Linked DNA regions of Homo sapiens. The protein of the gene in region 1 purifies or fractionates together with the protein of each later gene. This does not show direct contact. Each region holds a gene or a part of one and is shown on either strand. Other genes may lie near its edges.

Region 1 (3,657 bases):
TTAATACAAAGGTCATCACATACTACAAAACAAAAAGCGACAAAAATCTAATCCTGAGAGCAACTGAACAGTATTGTTTTGCTAATGTATTTCATAAGCAATCAATCTAAAGTACTTTCTAAAGTATTATAATATATATTTGAAAGAGTCTACTGCATTACATTATTTTGTTAGTGACCACTAGAAACACTAATCTAAGGTCCCCACAGCAGAATAAAAATATCAAATATTTCCTTTAAAAAGGAAAATCATCTTAATTTTCTTCTTGAAATCCATTTATCAAGAAGAAATAATTAGAATAAAATTTAAAAATTAGATTTAAAAGGTCTTGGAACCCTAATGCCTAGCATCTCAAAACCGAAAGGCCAGCAGATACCATCAAGTAAGTAAAAACTTTAAAATTCAAAGTGATCAGTTAAAAAAAGCAGAGTTTCTAAAGAAACTAAAAAGTTTCTGTAAAATTCCTCATTTTTGTATATTTTCTACAAATTTATGATGAGGCAAAACAATCAATCTATTACATGAATTAACAGCTATCACAGGCAAGTATTTTAAAGTAAATTATAAATCTAAGCCATAACAATATGTTGGTTCTAGTCTGGCAAATTACCCTGCATGCTAAACAAGAAATATGTTAATTTTACCAAATAAATTTTATTTCAAATTAGATTAAAATTACAAAGAAGTGTTTAATATTGATATCTTATGTAATATTCTATTTATACTGCCTCATGAATATACTTTTTAACTCATCTATATTCTGGTTTGCCTATTGCACGGATTCTAAAGTTGGCAAAAAATAATCAGACTTCAAAAAATAAGAAAATCTGCCCTAAAAATATTTTCTGCCTCATTTTCTCATAAACATACCAGTGTGATAAAGACTTTCCCTCCCTCATTAAGTCTTACAGACAGCATACAAACATTGCAGAGTATTTTTTCAAGCAAACAATATAACACACTAAACAACTTAAAAACAAACCTTTTAAATTACCAAAATACTGTAATTTTTCTCTATTAACTGTAAACAAAATATAAGATTCTATAAGCAATAACTATTAAGATGAACTATTTTGATGGAAGAACTGGTAATTTCTCAAAGGATAAAAAGAAGCACACTAGTATTTTGGTTCAATATCCCCTTTAAATATAAAATTTTCATTATGAGAAAAATAAAGGAAAATGCAGAAGTTGTAGTCATTAGCTTCCTTAAAAAATCAGGAAAAATAGCTCTAATATATAACTACAAAGTGGGTAGAACTGAATTAGAATATTATCTGGTCCTCTAGATTATAAACACTTATTTTCTAAAATAAAACATTTCTCTCCAAAAAATTACAATCTCAACCTCAAAATCTGTACACCAAAAAGTGTTTTATTTACTTTCAAATATTTATGTGTTGGGGATTTTCAAACCTGATGCAAAAATCAAAATTAACAAAGCAATAATTTAATAAAATATGCTTTGGTATACTAAATGTAAAAAAATAAAAGAAACTGACATCTAAATATGATACATATCCACATTTTATTATTTAATCAAGACTAAATAGAAACAGAAACTCATTACCTGTATAAGACAAAATGTCCTCACTCCTCTTAAATTTGCAAATAAAATGGAAAGCAATATATATTTTGGTACAATTATACAGATGTTCATGTAAAGTTTTTTTTTTTTTTTTTTAACACTATGTACTTAAATGCTATTAAAATAATGGGTGGCAAGCTACTTGAATACTGTTCCTTTTTACTGGTTATGCTTTTAATGATAACAGTGGATTAAATTTTTATTGCTTTTATCTCTGTACTAAAGATAGTATGTTTTTTTCTTTTTCTAGCATCTTGGGACTCTAAGGTGATCTAAAACCATTATAAAAGATAATTACAGAAACATATCTAAATTATCTTAGAATTATCTAAATTAGGTTTAACTTATAAAAATCCTACTCAATCAACATTATAAAGCATCCACTGCATATCAGCATTCAGAGAGCCGACATGGGCATAAATTATTTCATGAGTGATTAAAAATAAAAGATCTAATGTTATATAAAAGAGGTACATTTTACCTGGATGAGGTGAGGTAATGCTTTTAGTGTAAGGCAAAACCAAATCCCCAGTTTGCATGGAAGCAAATCATGCCACTGTGGTTTCATCAGCAATCTAAAGGGAGGGAGAAAAAAGAACACCATACAACATATGAGGAATATACAGAGAAAGTTGGGAGGCAAAATAATTCTATAAAGATCATGAATTCTTTTGTGAATGGCTACTTCAACAAAAAAAATGAAGAAAGTATGCACTGAAATATTTATAACTGACTTACTCCATCATGAAATACAGTAGTCACAACAAATGCAATATATATAGCATGTAAGAGAATCTAGGCTAAGATTTTGGGGAAGGAGGCTCCTAATCAAGTTACAAAGATAAACAAAAGCCTTCTTTCTAACCTGGGCTTTTCATCACTTTTGTACAACGAATTCTTAAGCCTTATGATTACTTCAGCTATAAAAAACTAACCATCATCAGAGTGTTCCCAAGTGCTGACAACCAGATATGAAGACTGTAGCATAAACAAACCAATACATAAAAATTAATGTCATTTGCAGTTCACTGAAGCATTACTCACTGATGTCATCAGAATAGATGACAGGCAGAATAGTCTCTGATCTCCATCCCACATTGATCCCAGTTCATGCCCTGCTGTGTGAACTATTTAAACCCTTTATTCCTTTCTATGAATCAATAGAAGAAATGGTGGTATCTTTTTGAGTGTACTGCATATCACTGCCTCTCTACATACTGTCACTCCTGAGCTAAGTGATAGGTCCGTCTAATAGTACTTTGTTTCTAAAGTTCAGTATAAAAATTTCAAACTAGAAGAATTTGAGGGATTATTTAAATATATAGTCACACTTTATATGGGGGAAAAAACCTGAAGACATTTTGCTTAAGATTAGAACTTGTCTCATAAACAATGGCACATTATTAGTCTTTTATAAGACTACCACAGATATAAATGAGAGCACATGTAAATAGACATACATATGAAGTTGAATCATATTAAAGATGTATTTTAAAACAGCTTCAAATTATAAAGTATTTTTATATGCTCTCACCTTTCATTTTTTTCTGAAGCACCGAGTTTTGATACATCCACACTCTTGCTGCCAGTCTTTTTTTTCTTTTCTCTCTTTTTTCTACTTAGTAGTTCATCCTTAATGTGGAAAGAATTATGGTTACAGGTTATCATTAACATGTACACTTCAAATGTTATCTAGGCTCTTCTGTGAAGGGTAAACATTATAGAGGAACATTTATGCAAATGTATGTAGGGTCCAACATGATTAAGTAAAATCATCAATCTTTCACAATAACTGTTGCCATGGTATCCAGGCCTTAAACACACATGAAGTTCAGGACTGTCAGTCATGTGCATCTCCATAGCAATCAAAGTTTTCTAAGAAGAGAAAGCATTCAACTCACTTTTTCTCATTCATCCAACTTTAATAATGTCACTTCAAAAGGAATGAGTAAACAGATGCTAATTCATGAATACTGATAAATATGTTTGATTATCTTTAACATATAAATAAAAACCCAAAGAATAAACTATAGAGTAGCATATTAAACCAAGAAAAGTGTAATAATTTT
Region 2 (3,657 bases), on another chromosome or scaffold:
AACATATATGGGTAGTCTACTTTGGCTAGATGGTAAGGTATAGTTGATTAGTTAAGAAGTATAATAAAAGCTTTGTTGTTGGGGGGCAGGCAGTCAGGCATCAGAGAAATTATTTTGTCAAAGATAATAAGATGGACTGAAATGAAGGAAAAGGAAAGAGAAACAAGTTTAAAAGCTATTATAGTTGCCAAGATAAGAAGTAATGAGGGGCTGTCTTGGGTTGATGGCAAAAGGAATTAAAAAGGGATCAACATGAGAATCGTTGTAAAGGTAGATAATGTTTAGCTCAATAAGCAGTTACAAAGCTGAGTTAAGAAGGACAAGTTCTTAGTCTGGCGCCCAGAGAAAATCAAGTGACACAAATGAGAAGCTGGCAGGTGGGATGAGAAATTATTCTGAATAAATTTAAAATCCAAGCCGACATGTTAGGAAGGTACTGACGAACAAATTTAAGTTTGGAACTTAAATAAAGTAAGGCCAGAGATACAGACTTGTGAATTATCTGTACAGAGAAACTTCAAAATCAAACACCTTGTAAATCATATCTCACTAAAACAAACAATTAGTTACCTAAGAAGGCTCTGGGAGAGGATGTTCAAGGGAAGAATCTTGAGGAATACCTACCCTTAGAGAAGAGAAAGGAGAGCAGAGAGAAAAATTGAGAAGAACGAATAATCAAAATTAAACCTCTGGAAGTCAAGAATAAAAAGGTTTCAAGGTGAGGATAGGCTGGGCGCAGTGACTCATGCCTGTAATCCCAGCACTTTGGGAGGCTGAGGCTGGAGGATCGCTTGAGTCCAGGAATTTGAGACCAACCTGGGCAACATCAGGAGACCCTGTCTCTAGAAAAAATTTAAAAATTAGGCTGCGCACAGTGGCTGACGTCTAAGTGACGCTGGTAATCCCAGCACTTTGGGAGGCTGAGGCGGGTGGATCACCTGAGGTCAGGAGTTTGAGACAAGCCTGGCCAACATGGTGAAACCCTGTCTCTACTAAAAATACAAAAATTAGCCACACGCGGTGGCATACGCCTGTGATTCCAGCTACTCAGGAGGCTGAGGCAGGAGAATCACTTGAACCTGGGAGGCAAAGGTTGCAGTGAGCCGAGATCGCACCATTGCACTCCAGCCTGTGCGACAGGGTGAGACTCCATCTCAAAAAAAAAAAAAAAAAAAAAAAAAAAAAATAGCAGGGTGTGGTGGTGTACACCTGTAGTCCCAGCTACTTGGGAGGCTGAAGTGGGAGGATCACTGGAGTCCCAGAGGTCGAGATTGCAGTGAACTGTGATGGGGTCACTGCACTCCAGCCTGGGTGACAGAGCAAGTCCCTGTCTCAGAAAAACAAACAAAAAAACCAAGAAGGTAAGGAGGATAGTCCATGCTTCCAAAAAAATACAGAGAACAGTATACTGTCAAAAGGCTGTAAGAGTCAGAACAGCTTTTCCCCTGGAATTATCTCAGAGATTGAATGGAATGCTGATTTTCTCTCCAGTAAAGAATCATAAAACACTAGGATTCAGCTATCTCTTAAATCTATAAAAATTATTTCCTGGGATGGGTGCGTGGCTCATGCCTGTAATCCCAACACTTTGGGAGGCCGAGGCAGGCGGATCATGAGGTCAGGAGTTTGAGACCAGCCTGGCCAACATGGTGAAGCTCCGTCTCTACTAAAAATACAAAAATAAGCTAGGTATGGTGGTGCATGCCTGTAATCCCAGCTACTGGGGAGACTGAGGCAGAAGAATCGCATGAAACTGGAAGGCAGAGGTTGCAATGAGCCAAGATTGTGCCACTGCACTCCAACCTGGGCCAAAGAACGAAACTCTGTCTCAAAAAAAAAAAAAAATTGTTTTCTTAAAAACTCATTAGCTTACCAATATAGCATAACTATGTCTAAACAATAAAAAAAGTTTGTATTCCTACTGTCATTTGAATAATTTATATACATATGTTTATAAGAAATATTTAATTCTACCTTTCAGCTTCATCTCTTGGCTTTGAAAAGCCCTGGTTTTTTTTTTGGCCAGGTACCATGGCTCACGCCTGTAATCCCCACACTTTAGGAGGCCGGGCCGGGTGGATCACGAGGTCAAGAGATCAAGACCATCTTGGCCAACATGGTAAAACCCCATTTCTACTAAAAATACAAAAATTAGCTGGGCATGGTGGCATGCGCCTGTAGTCTTAGCTACTCGGAGGCTGAGGCAGGAGGACTGCTTGAACCCGAGAGGGGAAGGTTTCAGTGAGCCAAGTCATGCCACTGCACTACAGCCTGGCGACAAAGCAAGACTCCATCTAAAAAAAAAAGAAAAAAGAAAAGTCCTATTTTTAAAGACAGCATGTGTTATGAAAGAAAGAAAAGGGCTTTGGTGTCAAACAGACCTGGGTTTGAATTCTACCTCTACCACCTGCTTTTGAGTTTTTCTTTTGTAAAATGGGATAATATTACCACCCTGCAGGAATTTAGAGGATTAAAAATAATGTATGCTAAGAGCCTGTTTGTACATAGTAGCCATTTATATTATTTTTCTAGTTTCCCATCTCTATACCAGACTACATTTCCTAGAAAATCCTGGACCTCTTTACCACTCAGCAATGATTCTCCAAACATCGTATATAATATAGGACACAGTCCCAAGTCTATGAAATCTGCTTACCCTTTCTGGCGTTTTAAAGAATTCAGAGAGCTCCGTTAATATCTTCTTTCAAGTATTCATGTTCTACGAACTGCAGTAAGACAATCTACCCAGGAACCCACAATATAAGCCTCCCTAAGTTTTTCTCCCTCTTTTAATTTTTAAAATAGATTTTTTTACTATTATTATCGTAGAGACGGAGTCTCACTATCTTGCCGCGTGGTCTCAAACTCCTGAGCTCAAGTAATCCTCCTACCTTGGCCTCCCAAAGTGCTGGGATTATAGGTATGTACCACCACACCTGGCCTCTTCTCCCTCTTGAAGGTTCTGAGGATACCCAAGATGGAAGACTGCAAAGCAATCACCATGGATAATGATGAGGATTCAAACTATGAATAAGGAACTTTGTTCCTTCTTTGAATTAATGCCTTCTCTCCCTATTGGTAACATAAAATGCCCAGTGTTTATAGTTTACTGGCTTTAATTATTGTTTTTTTATTTTTATTTTTTTGAGACAGGGTCTCACTCTGTCACCCAGGCTGGAGTACACTGGTGTGATATTGGGTCACTGCAACCTCTGCCTTCTGGGTTCAAGCAATTCTCCCGCCTCAGCCTCCCAAGTAGCTGGGACTACAGGTGCATGCCACTGCAGCTGGCTAATTTTTATATTTTTAGTAGACACAGGGTTTTGCTATGTTGGCTAGGCTGGTCTCAAACTCCTGACCTCAGGTGATCCGCCCGTCTCAGCCTCCCAAAATGCTGGGATTACAGATGTAAGCCACCGTGCATGGCCTCTGGCTTTAATTCTAATAACAGTATTTCAGACTATGTCAGGAATGCACTCTAACCCTTAAGTGTTAATTTCCAGCAGCAGAACTAAGCAAACTTTTTTTTTTTTTTTTTTTTTTTTTTTTAAGAGACAAGGTCTTGCTATGTTGCCAGCCTGAAACTCCTGGGCTCAAGCAGTCCTCCCAACTCAGCCCCCCGAGTAGTTGGGATTACAGGTACATGCCACTGCACCT

The links. Proteins that work in one complex are often made in the same cells at the same time.
Region 2: the proteins of DNAJC1 (region 1) and DCAF8 purify together in Homo sapiens (affinity purification with mass spectrometry, with the first as the bait; one large-scale study listed by BioGRID). This does not show direct contact.

What each region holds. Positions count from the first base shown.
Region 1 is NC_000010.11:21,916,710-21,920,366, forward strand, and holds part of DNAJC1 (dnaJ homolog subfamily C member 1 precursor), read right to left. Parts: intron 3,221-3,657; coding exon 3,123-3,220; intron 2,164-3,122; coding exon 2,070-2,163; intron 1-2,069. UniProt on the Homo sapiens protein: May modulate protein synthesis.
Region 2 is NC_000001.11:160,252,492-160,256,148, forward strand, and holds part of DCAF8 (DDB1- and CUL4-associated factor 8), read right to left. Parts: intron 1-3,657. UniProt on the Homo sapiens protein: May function as a substrate receptor for CUL4-DDB1 E3 ubiquitin-protein ligase complex.